Linked DNA regions of Homo sapiens: regions 1, 3 and 4 are each reported to be linked to region 2. The links are microRNA targets in miRTarBase. Many come from high-throughput screens and were not tested one by one. Region 2 holds a microRNA gene; each other region holds the end of a gene's coding sequence.

What was found. The annotated mature microRNA hsa-miR-506-5p reads UAUUCAGGAAGGUGUUACUUAA and lies in region 2 at 1,441-1,462, opposite strand. An mRNA with a match to its seed (bases 2 to 7 or 8) in the 3' UTR can be bound and repressed. Matches are read on the target gene's strand: a 7mer-m8 pairs with bases 2 to 8, a 7mer-A1 pairs with bases 2 to 7 and ends in A, and an 8mer does both.
Region 1: the mRNA of LHX6 is a reported target of hsa-miR-506-5p. Seed matches in the 3' UTR shown: 7mer-A1 at 2,068-2,074.
Region 3: the mRNA of SLC20A1 is a reported target of hsa-miR-506-5p. Seed matches in the 3' UTR shown: 7mer-A1 at 1,099-1,105.
Region 4: miRTarBase lists DYNLT1 as a target of hsa-miR-506-5p. Seed matches in the 3' UTR shown: 7mer-A1 at 528-534.

What each region holds. Positions count from the first base shown.
Region 1 is chr9:122,202,269-122,205,405 of GRCh38, forward strand. It overlaps LHX6 (LIM homeobox 6), which reads right to left. Exons shown (of 10, transcript NM_014368.5): 10 at 314-2,512. The coding sequence ends at 2,492. Among named protein-coding and RNA genes, the nearest start is that of LHX6, 25 kb to the right of the region's middle.
Region 2 is chrX:147,229,348-147,232,484 of GRCh38, forward strand. It overlaps MIR506 (microRNA 506), which reads right to left and starts at 1,496; the gene lies at 1,373-1,496. MIR507 (microRNA 507) reads right to left here and starts at 1,730; the gene lies at 1,637-1,730. The region is part of intron 2 of LOC105373347 (periphilin-1); the gene reads left to right.
Region 3 is chr2:112,662,697-112,665,833 of GRCh38, forward strand. SLC20A1 (solute carrier family 20 member 1) reads left to right here. Exons shown (of 11, transcript NM_005415.5): 11 at 168-1,129. The coding sequence ends at 329. Among named protein-coding and RNA genes, the nearest start is that of SLC20A1, 18 kb to the left of the region's middle.
Region 4 is chr6:158,633,998-158,637,134 of GRCh38, reverse strand. DYNLT1 (dynein light chain Tctex-type 1) reads left to right here. Exons shown (of 5, transcript NM_006519.4): 4 at 1-7; 5 at 238-661. The coding sequence ends at 308. TMEM181 (transmembrane protein 181) reads right to left here. Exons shown (of 17, transcript NM_001376852.1): 17 at 1,706-3,137. Among named protein-coding and RNA genes, the nearest start is that of DYNLT1, 9.2 kb to the left of the region's middle.

The DNA of each region.
Region 1 (3,137 bases), not on the chromosome of region 2:
GGTCTGGCTGGGAGCCTTTTCTCAGTGTGCAGAGCCAGCACAGGGCCCAGCAGAGAGTGTATGTTCAGAGACTGGAACAGAGGGCATCAAGCAGCCTGATTTCCTCCAAAGCTTAGATAAGAAGCAGGTGTGACTGAGTACTTACAGAAGAAACCCATCGTCAGGCCTCCACAATCCATTGTTTACTAACTGGGAAATGGTACCCGTTTCCCAGGAAGGAGGATTACACTGTCCAGCAGCCCACATATTCTGGGAGCCAGGGACCTAAGCCCTTCACCAGAGAGCAGGAAAGAAATGGAATCCCATCATGTTCTGGATTTCAGTGCCAGCACTTCTACTTGCATTAACTTTATTACACAAATAAGACATTTACAAAGCACGACATGAAAGGTATGTAACAAAACAGACATTGGTTTTACAAAAAAAGTGCTTACAATTTTTTTTCCGTGTGTGTGTTTTCCCCTTTTTTTGTATTTAAATAAATAGTCTTGATGGCCTGTACGTTCCCAGGCTGCTCTTAACAGGGTAGTGGAGACATGTTTGAACTGTAACATGCTACGGCCACATAATCCACGCAAGGAATAGACCCTGAGGAGAGGCTCAAGGCAGAGTGTGTTGGGTGACCCTGGGTAGGGCTTGGTTGGCCACTTACCACATGGTTGCCACTGGGGCCTTGATGATCAGGAGCAAAAATCAAAGGAAAGATTTGAGCTCCAAGGCCAGGAATTGGGCCCTGGTTGCTCCTGTTAATGTCAGCGCCTAGCACAGGGCTGGGCACAAGTTACCACTGACTGAGTGCTGAGCTGAGCTGTACTCACCACGTTCTGAGTGGTGCCTGCTCTTTGCCCTCAGTCAGCTGTCACTGTCTTTGGAAGGGAGAGGAAGCAGGTTCCCTTCTTAGGCTGCACCTGTGCCTACCCTGCCTGTAGATCCCAGAGCAAGAATGACCTATAGGCTTTCATGTTAAGTGCCAACGTCAAGCATTTGAACTCTGAAACCTTATCCAGACTCAGTGAAATAGAGCTGCCATTGATTAGCAATGTCTGCCATGGGTAAAAACAGAGACAATGGCTGCGTATGTACCATGAACTTGCTTTCCCTGTCTTAGAGTCTCCTTCCAAAAGCAACATAACAGGTTAACCACAGCAGGAAGGCGGACTTGGGCTAAAACATGCTGATTAGCAACCTCTAGTGGAAAATGCATCAGGACACCAGGTAATTCTAGAATTACAGGATAAGCTTGGGACAAATGGGCATCCCCTGAAAACATAAATCATGGTCGTGTGTAGCCTGAGCCCTTTTGTTTGGGGTGGAAGAGTTGTAGCAGGATGGATGTTACGCAGCTGTGTCTGACCTCTGTTCTCAGGGGTGGGTGGGGCTGGCTCCAGGAAGTATTGATTGGGAAGCTCAGAGGCACCAGTTGGAATCCTGAGCTTGGCACACTCACCTAGGCAATGGGCACCCTCTCTCTACTTAGAGATGGATCCAGGGTTAACATTCTGACTGCCATTTCACTGGGCTCTGTTCCCTCTCCCCTATAAGGGATTCCCCTTCCATTGAGAAGACCTGGCCCAAGCACCACTATGAGAGGTCAACAAGTGGCCAACAGGGGTCCCCAACTCTAACCTGTCCAAACATTCAGAAGAGTCATGGCACAGATCGAATACCATCGCTGCTATGTTTCTTACATATATGCTGGATAATTAGGTGGGGGTAGGGTCTCTCCCTGACCCCAGAGTTTTCTCTTTCCTCTCCTTAAAATGGCTAGTGCCTCTTCTGGTCCAATATGTCACCGCCCTCTCCTTGATTTCCAAACCAATGGGGGTCTTTCTTCTCCCCATTCCCTGTCTATCCCCGCTGCCTCCTAGTCTGGGCAGGCCTCCATCTCTGCCCTATTAGGCCTCTCAGGGTTGGTCACTGTCTCTTCTCTTTCTGAATTAACTTGACATAACCAGACAGATGGAAATGATAAAATTAGAACATAGCTTTCCTTTGGGGACATCCCACAAACACTGTAGAGTTTTCCAGACAAAAGCAACAGAGTGGATAACATTGGGGGTTGTCAGCTATTCAGAATTCAGAGATGGTTCCAAGGAAGTAGTAAATAAAGGCCAATGTGGGGGAAAAAAACCTGTAAATGAGAAGGCCGTTGGCATCGCACAATTCAATTCCGCCTTTTGTTATTGTAATCAGCTGAAGTTGAAGAGGACTCCTGTTTAAATGGGAAAAACAGGCTGTTTCCACCCTGATTCCAGATTTCAGGGAGTTCTGCCTTCCAAGAGGAGGACTCTGTGGTGCTCCTGGTGGGTTCTGGTTCTCAGCAGGAGAGGGAAAGGCCAGGCCTCGGGAACCGACCTGGTGGTGGGCAGGATGGCGGACGGGGGTGGATGCGGAGGTGGGTGGACTCCTGGCCGCAGCTTGGACACTGGATCTCAGCGGCTGAGGGGCAGCTGTGGGGCGCCCACGGGCAGATGCGGAAGTGCCGGCAGCGTTAGTACTGAAAAAGGATGACCTGCAAGAGGAGGGCATGGGAGGTGGCTGAGCTGGGGGCCTGCCCCACCCTGCTGCCCCCCAGAGAACCTCAAAGGCACAGAGAAGAAGGGTGGACTCAGGGCCCAGATCTGAGTTTAAATCCTGGCTCTGTCAACTGACTTGCTGTGGGACCTTGGGCAACTCACTGCACCTCTCTGAGCCTGTTTCCTCATCTTTAAAACAAGGATGACAAAATCTCTCTCTGAGAATCAGAGAGATTCAATGAGATACAACAGCAGCAGCAAAAGCCTTCTGGGCATTTCACCCTGCACCTTCTGTGCCTGATTTCACGGAAGCCGCACCATAGCCCCGTGAGGGAGTTCCAACGTTCTGTTTTACAAGGAGGGCACTCAGGCTCAAAGAGGTGGAAGCGAGTGAGCTCGTGGGCACACAGCGAGGAGGAGGACCTGGCACTGGAGGCCAGGCCTGGCTCACAGCAAGCTCTCCCTACCAAAGCACATTGCCTCTACCTTTCCAAGGTCACCGTGACCATAGTGGCTGACTGCTTATTACCCACAGGGCCACGGGCTAAGCACTTCACATGCGCTTAATCTTCACATGCACGAAGCCTAGAAGTGCGTGGCTCAGACACACTGGGTGCCCGA
Region 2 (3,137 bases):
GGCCTGCACCAATCAGATGAAGGTTTAAATGGAACAAAAAGGCTGACTCTCCCCTAAGTTAGAGAGAATTCCTCCTGCCTGACTGCCTCCAAACTGGGGCATCTCATTTTTTTCTGGCATTGTACTCAAATTAAAACATTAGCTCTTCCTGGGTCTCAAACCTGCTGGCCTTTGGACTGGAACTACAAAATGGTTTGTTCTACTGCTTCTTTGGCCTCTGGACTTGGACTGCAACTATACCATCAGTTCTCCTGGGTCCCCAGCTTGCTGACCCATCCCCCTGCAGATCTAGGAACTCACCAGCCTCCATAGTTGCCTGAGGTTATTCCTTGCAGTATCCTTATAATAAATATCTTAAGGGATTTATTTTAAAAATAGACTTCTATAATAATTATATACATATATATTTGCTCAATCATTGTCCTGGGTGTTTCTTTGAAGGTCTTATAAGACCTGATCCAGAATCTGAGGGTGCCTGGGGTACCTGTGAAAAGTATGTCCTGTAGGTTTTTTAAGCATTTATTCCTTTTTCTCCACAAAAGGACTACAAAACACTGGGAACAAGATTTGAGGTAGGAACATGATCCTTTTTCTGCATCCTTTTCCTTTTTCTGTGAATGTCATATGTATGTGTGTGTGTGTGTGTGTGTGTGTGTATATATATATATATATATATATATATATATATATATAAAGGGATATATAAACCCCTTTGTATATGTAAAGTTTCCAGAAGTATATGTACACACATGTTCATACATATATGTTCTCATCACTTCATCCGTTCCCATAATAGTTAAGACCAGCTAAAAACATATAAATAGTTCAAATGAAAGCAAATTTGGGGTATCATATCAAACTCCACTGATATGAGATTATCATCACGGATACACAGGAATATTAAAGGGAATTTGAGTGTATCTAAGCCTTGAGGAGATCACTTCATAAGAAAGATGGTTCATGGAGTTTGGAGTTCAGCAGGGAAGGGCAGGAGGATATTTGTGCTCCCTAAAAAGAAGGCTTAAATATTGTGAGGAAAGAAGATCAGTGTAAACTTCTCAGGGGTTTATAAGGCAAGAAGTGTATTTGGGTTGTTATAGAGAGAAAAGACTAAGAGGTACAAGAGAAAAAGAAGTATCATGTTCCTACCTCAAATCTTGTTTCCAGTGTAGTCAGTCATTTTGTGGAGAAAAAGCAATAAATAATTGAAAAACCTACATGAGAGACTTTTCCCAGGCACCCTCAGATTCTGGAGCAGATCTCTCAAGAGGTACTTCAGAGAGTACCTGGAAATGGCTCATCACTAAAGGTTGGGTACCAAGGCTCAAGGGAGGGCAGTATTGTCACTGAAATTCCACTCGTCATTACCAATGCCACCACAAATGTTGTCCATGTTGCACATTACTCTACTCAGAAGGGTGCCTTACAAATATTAATCTATTAAGTAACACCTTCCTGAATAAGGCACTACACATAGTATGGCTGATGGTGGTGGCACTGACCATCTTAATAGTAACACGGGGAAACTACAGATGAGGCTATTCCCAGAGAACCTCATCCTCTAGGTTTTACCCCACAGAATTCTCTTTAAAGGGTTGTATGAGTTGACCCATCACTGAGTGGGTAGTTCTGACTTGTATCTGTTGTGCATTATTTCACTCCAAAAGGTGCAAAACATATTTCTAGACACATGCATGGCACTTCTTGAAGTGAAGCACTACACACAGCACAGCGGAAAATGTCCCTCACTCCGCCATTTCAGTCAGAATCCCAACACTCTCAGTCCACTAGGAATAAGCAGAATATAGTCAATAGATTAAAAAAAAAACAAACCCTTTTTCCTCTCCCTTTTGTCTCCTATGTCTTTCACTGAATGCTTATTAATTACTTCACCTGCTGCACATTTAATGAGACAGATTTTAGGAGAGAGAAAATTTTCCCTCTTCCTCCCAGACTTAGCATACTTCACTAAATTGTTCTGCTAATTTTCAATTTAATATAGTTGGCACATGAACAACTACTTCATATGCCTCAAAAGCCAGTCATTACATAGAAAGGACCACTCAAGTGACTCATCATATCTAGCGATTGCAGGCCAGATAGAGCTCAGTTGAAGCAGTGCTGGAGAGTTCTCTTCTTTCCAATTTGAATCTTCTTTATATCATTGGGGCCTTGGTTTGGCATCCTCTGTTCAGAGATGAAGGCCTACAGCAGCAGAAGCAGTAGTCACCACAGTCATGCACTTGCAAACCAGTGTTTAGACCAAGAAATATCTGCAACACATGTGAACACATGCATGCCACACATGCAAATAAACATGTGAACAATGAAACAAACAACCCCAAAACGAATGCTCACAAAATAGGGCAATGCAAACACAAAGACAAACACTGCATGATCTGACTCATACGCAGAGTCTAAGAAAGTTGATCTCATAGGAGTAGAGAGTAGAATGATGGTTACCAGAGTCTGGGGAAGGGAAGGGAAAGGGGGGTTGGGGAAAAATTGGTTTATGGGTACAGAGTCACAGTTAGGAGGGCTAAAAGTTCTGATGTGTTATTGTGCAGAAGAGTGATTGATTATAGTTAGTTAACAATATTTTATGGTATATTCCAAAATCACTAGAAGAGAGGGTTTTGAATGTTCTTCCCACAAAGAAGTGATGGACGTTTGAGGTAATGAAAATACTAAATCCCTGATTTGATTATTACACAATGCATGTATGTATCAAAACATCTCACTATATCTCATCAATATTTACAAATTATTATGTGTCAACTAAAAAAACAATAAAGGAGTAACAATTTTTTTTTTGAGACAGAGTTTTGCTTTTGTTGCCCAGGCTGGAGGGCAATGGCACAATCTCAGCTCACTGCAACCTCCGCCTCCTGGGTTCAAGCGATTCTCCTGCCTCAGCCTCCCACGTAGCTGGGATTACAGGCATGTGCCACCAGACCCAGCTAATTTTCTGTATTTTCTGTAGAAGCAGGGTTTCACCGTGTTGACCAGGCTGGTCTTGAACTCCTGGCCTCAGGAGATCCACTGGCCTCGGCCTCCCAAAGTGCTGGGATTACAGGCATGAGCCACCGTGCCCAGCCGGGAGTAACAATTTTTAAGAATGTAAAAATACTACTGAA
Region 3 (3,137 bases), not on the chromosome of region 2:
TTCAAATTGCCTTCATTTTCCCAGCTTAACCTGTTGTAAACCAGCTTTCTTGGACTTTGTCTTGTCCAGGGGTCTGGGGCTCCTTGTCCAAACAGTCTCAGGTGTCTGTTTGCCAGAATACCACTGGCACTTCAATAACCTGTTTCCTTGGTCTGCTTCTCTTCTAGGTGGGCTCTGTTGTGTCTGTTGGCTGGCTCCGGTCCAAGAAGGCTGTTGACTGGCGTCTCTTTCGTAACATTTTTATGGCCTGGTTTGTCACAGTCCCCATTTCTGGAGTTATCAGTGCTGCCATCATGGCAATCTTCAGATATGTCATCCTCAGAATGTGAAGCTGTTTGAGATTAAAATTTGTGTCAATGTTTGGGACCATCTTAGGTATTCCTGCTCCCCTGAAGAATGATTACAGTGTTAACAGAAGACTGACAAGAGTCTTTTTATTTGGGAGCCAGAGGAGGGAAGTGTTACTTGTGCTATAACTGCTTTTGTGCTAAATATGAATTGTCTCAAAATTAGCTGTGTAAAATAGCCCGGGTTCCACTGGCTCCTGCTGAGGTCCCCTTTCCTTCTGGGCTGTGAATTCCTGTACATATTTCTCTACTTTTTGTATCAGGCTTCAATTCCATTATGTTTTAATGTTGTCTCTGAAGATGACTTGTGATTTTTTTTTCTTTTTTTTAAACCATGAAGAGCCGTTTGACAGAGCATGCTCTGCGTTGTTGGTTTCACCAGCTTCTGCCCTCACATGCACAGGGATTTAACAACAAAAATATAACTACAACTTCCCTTGTAGTCTCTTATATAAGTAGAGTCCTTGGTACTCTGCCCTCCTGTCAGTAGTGGCAGGATCTATTGGCATATTCGGGAGCTTCTTAGAGGGATGAGGTTCTTTGAACACAGTGAAAATTTAAATTAGTAACTTTTTTGCAAGCAGTTTATTGACTGTTATTGCTAAGAAGAAGTAAGAAAGAAAAAGCCTGTTGGCAATCTTGGTTATTTCTTTAAGATTTCTGGCAGTGTGGGATGGATGAATGAAGTGGAATGTGAACTTTGGGCAAGTTAAGTGGGACAGCCTTCCATGTTCATTTGTCTACCTCTTAACTGAATAAAAAAGCCTACAGTTTTTAGAAAATTTGTTCTCATGGTTTTCTTTCATACTCGAATCACCTGGGCTCCTGATCAGTTAGCCTAATATCATTCTTAGGTGATGTGAATATCTTAACAAGTGAGAGCTACTGTCCAACTTAAAGCTCCCAACCCCTCCCTGTATGCTTCTTGTGTGCCCAGAATATGCAAGACATTACTCCATAGGGACTGTGGTGGCAACTTGGCATTTTCCCTTTTAGTAGCACAGCCTGTACACTTTCATGTTAGCACACGGGTGTTTTTTTTGTTTTGTTTTTCCAGTTTTTTCTTTTGATACTTTTTGTTTTTTTTTTTGAGACGGAGTCTCGCTGTGTCACCAGGCTGGAGTGCAGTGGTGTGATCTCGGCTCACTGCAACCTCCACCTCCTGGGTTCAAGCAATTCTCCTGCCTCAGCCTCCTGAGTAGCTGGGACTACAGGCGCCCACCACCACATCTGGCTAATTTTTAGTAGAGACAAGCTTTCAGCATGTTGGCCAGGCTGGTCTCAAACTCCTGACCTCAAGTGATCCGCCTGTGTTGGCCTCCCAAAGTGCTGGGATTATAGCCATGAGCCACTGCGTCTGGCCTACTCATGGTTTTTCACAGCCAAAGATTTACTGTTGAATGGACAGCTTTATTTTACTATTTTATGTAGATTGTTTTTAGCTTTGGTATTACGGTAAACCCTTGAACAGTGTGGAGGTTGGACACCAACCCCCATGCAGTCAAAAAACCATGTATAACTTTTGACTCCAAAAACTTGACTACCAGTAGCCTACGGTTGACCAGAAGCTTTAGCAATAACATAAACAGTTGTGAACACATATTTTACGTGTTATATGTATGTATTATATACTGTACTACGATAATGTAAGCTAGAGAAAAGGAAATAAAACCATAAGGAAGATACATTTACTATTCATTAAGTGGAAATGGATCATAAAGGTTTTCATCCTTGTCATCTTGAGTTGACTGAGGAGGAAAGGAGGAGTTGGTCTTGCTGTCTCAGGGATGGCAGAGGTGAAAGTAAGTCTGTGTATAAGTGGATTCTGCAGTTCAGACTAGTGTTCAAAGGACATCAGTACAAGGAAAGCAAAAATGAGTGGGAGGCAATGTGTAGCTAAGTTTTGTTTAAAAGTTCTCAGTATGGGATTCTTCAGTTCTGACCCATTATATTTTTGCCCCTGATCAGAAGTTAATGAAAAGTACATTTCTTGGCAAACTAGATTGATAGTTCCTGTCCTGAGGGTTTGGAACAATACTTTTGAATTTTGAGTTTATTTGGAGCGTTTCACTAGAAACCAACACTAAGAATCGAACAGGGTAAGGCAGTGCCTAGTCTAACCTGTGCCTGCAAGGTTAGGCCACTGGCTGGGTACATGCCGTTGCATCCTGCTGTCAGTTTAATGGTCTTGCAGAAGACTACATTTAATCCTCATGGCCTTTTGTGGTAGATCTTATCCTGATTTTGTACATGATGAAACTGGCGTGGAGAACATCTGTATTTGCCCAGTATTGTCAGTTAGCAGAGGGTGCCCGTTACTTGTAGCCTTTGGGGCTGGGTGAAACTAGCTTTATGACTTGTTACTTGAGGGAAGGGAGGGTAGGGGGCTGTTGTAAAGGGCGACCGAGCATTAGGCCTTGAACTGAGGGTCTGGGAGGAGACCCTCAGAGTTCTGGCACTGCCTTCCCTTCGTGCTGAATGACCTCACAAAAGCCCAGATCCTTTCAGAGCCCAGTGATTACATGGAGAAGAGGAACCTCCCTGGCACTTTCACTTGGCTCAGGACAGAACAGCTGAGAAAATACTTAGACCAAGCTTGTCCAGCTACAGACAATTTTTCCAGTGTGGCCCAGGGAAGTGAAAAGATTGAACACACCAAGGATGTGTTTCTGTAGGCAGAGCAGGTAGACCTGGGGAGAGGAGCCTCTAGAGCTAGGGAAGGGACCAGAGGAGCGGTTATATTTCTACTTTAGTTGTCTGCCATGGGGCAGGGACACATGGTGAGAACCC
Region 4 (3,137 bases), not on the chromosome of region 2:
ACTGACGGTATGATTTTCATTCATGTTTGTGAAGTTTTGTTGTGTGAAATATATGACTGGAAGTTTCCTATCTTTGAATGCAATGCATGTTTATCACCTTTTAAAACATTTAATAATAGACTTGCCAAGGTTCTTTGTGTAGCATAGAGATGGGTACTTGAATGTTGGCCTTATTGTGAGTAAAACGTCGTCCCCCAGCTTTCCCTGCCGTAAATGCTGCTCTCTTCCCTCCCGCAGGGAGCTGCACTGTGCGATGGGAGAATAAGACCATGTACTGCATCGTCAGTGCCTTCGGACTGTCTATTTGACCTGCAGTCCAGCCTATGGCCTTTCTCCTTTTGTCTCTAGTTCATCCTCTAACCACCAGCCATGAATTCAGTGAACTCTTTTCTCATTCTCTTTGTTTTGTGGCACTTTCACAATGTAGAGGAAAAAACCAAATGACCGCACTGTGATGTGAATGGCACCGAAGTCAGATGAGTATCCCTGTAGGTCACCTGCAGCCTGCGTTGCCACTTGTCTTAACTCTGAATATTTCATTTCAAAGGTGCTAAAATCTGAAATCTGCTAGTGTGAAACTTGCTCTACTCTCTGAAATGATTCAAATACACTAATTTTCCATACTTTATACTTTTGTTAGAATAAATTATTCAAATCTAAAGTCTGTTGTGTTCTTCATAGTCTGCATAGTATCATAAACGATTTCTTCATAGTGAGTGGCTACAGAATCTATACAACCAGACCAGGCGCAGTGGCTCACACCTGTAATCCCACCACTTTGGGAGGCTGAGGCAGGCGGATCATGAGGTCAGGAGATCAAGACCATCCTGTCTAACACGGTGAAACCCCGTCTCTACTAAAAATACCAAAAATTAGCCAGGTGTGGTGGCGGGCGCCTGTAGTCCCAGCTACTCGGGAGGCTGAGGCAGGAGAGTGGCATGAACCCAGGAGGCAGAGGTTGTAGTGAGCCAAGATCGTGAGCCAAGTTCCCGCCACTGCACTCCAGCCTGGGTGACAAGAGCAAGAGTCCGCCTCAAAAAAAAAAAAAAAAAAAAAAAAAAAAAATATATATATATATATATACAACCAAAAAAAAAAAAGTTCTGCTGTGGTCCTCTCCATGATGTACTCATTTTACCCGTGGGACCAGGATCCTGACGGCTCTGCTGGGTTCTGGTTAGATTCCTACCCCTCGGCATCACACCTCCCATTCTTAAGCCCTCCTCTTCTAGAGGTGAAGGGGTGGGAGGTGGGCAAACCAATTTCTATTCTCTTAGCCAGAGAGCTCTAACTCACACTTGGCCCAAAGCTGTAACACCTTAACTGTTAATCCTGTGTTCTCTGTAGGGCTCACAAATTGTCTTAGTACTTCAGAGCTTACAAAATGGTTTTCACAATCATTCATTCTGTGTCTTCAACAATTTGCAGTCATTTAAAAATCTCAGAAAATGTGTTTGGAGGTTATCTGATTGGTTTAAAGTCACACATCCAAGTTGGGAGCTGGGCCCAAACCCACGCCTTGTCTCCATCTTGAGTGCTCTTCCCCAGGCCACATTAGACATGGCAATAAAGATACCTCCGTGCCTGCCTGCTGAAATGGAAAAGCCCTGCCGTTGTCTCCAAAGCCGCTTTATTAAAGCATTTATGTCTGCAAGGCCAAATTAACTCCACACACAAAGAGCAAACAAATCAAGACACATAGAAGTGAATATTAAAAATTTATTAACATTTCCCAGAAAGGTAGTGTCAGAATTAAGCCATTCGCAAAAGACGAATTTGCCATAAACAAACATTCACTTTTGCCTGATGACAGCAACACTGTGATGGGGTGGCACTGTGCCCCACGGACAGGTCCACAACTGAACACATGGCTCTATCTCTCCTTTTGGGCTTAAAGTTTAGTGTTATTTTATTTTACAAATATTTACAGTCATTTTGTAAAAAGGCAGTTTTTAGTAGCAGAAAATTCTTCTGTTTTATAGTATGGTATCACAGTTACTAGCGTATCTCCAATGTCAAACCAAGATAAACAGCATCACAAGATGTCACAGACTAATACAACTTCCCTTTGGCCAGGGGAAAAGATCTGTATCTTTTTTTTTTTTTCTTCAAAAGTCTAACCTCTAAGGCAACCGGTTTCTAAAACCCTCAAAATACACAAATACACTTTCATGTTTTAAGTCTCATCTTCACTAAATGTTCAGACACATCCGTTTTAATTATCCCTTTTATGAGGGTCTGTGTTTTTCCTGTGATAAAGGATTCAGGAAATAATTTACCACATTATAATCTATTTAACATAACTACCCTCAGTAAATAGTTCATAAAATACTTGAGGCTGGTGACATTTGTCTTGTAACCTGCTCATTTAGTGGGTTGGGTTTACAAAATGTATCTAAGCTTTTATTGCAATCTGCAATTATGTACATTAACAACCTTACAAACCTTGAACATAGTATATATATCCCCTTCTCTAGCCTTTCAAATGGGGCTTAAGAGAGAGAAAATGGCACCACTTCACTGCTATAATGATTTAATAATAAATCAAGCAGACTTATCATCCACATGGATAACGAAGCTCTCCCTAGGGAAACTGAAATACCTCTGGTCATCTTCCAGGTTCTCCTAGACTGGACCAGTATTTAAAAAATCCCAAAGATGATGTTACTCAAGCCATTACCATGAAGGAACTAAAGTCAGCCCTTTAAGTTCGCAAAACTTTAACATAACTACCCTCAGTAAATAATTTATTTTTTCTTCAACAATTTTCTTGCTACTGTCAAAAGTTTCTGGCAGACTTTAGTGTTTTAACCTGATACCTATGGTACATATTCTACATGCCAAGTGCTAGAGAGTTTAAGCAAAATTTTACATGGGGTATGTAATATGTCGGTATTTATGATATACCAGGGAAGACAAGTTGAAAATACATGACTTAGTAAGAACGATTTTCCCCTTAAGTACTTTCTAACTTTTTTTCTTATTTCCCACTTAGTTACAAAAAGTAAATAAATAATCCTATATTTTTCATTTCATTGATGCATGAAGACTCAATGTATGAAGATAATAGTCATCAGTTTATAATTACACTATAGGACAAAGTTTTAAAAAGTTCTAGTGTGTGTATGGCTAAATGC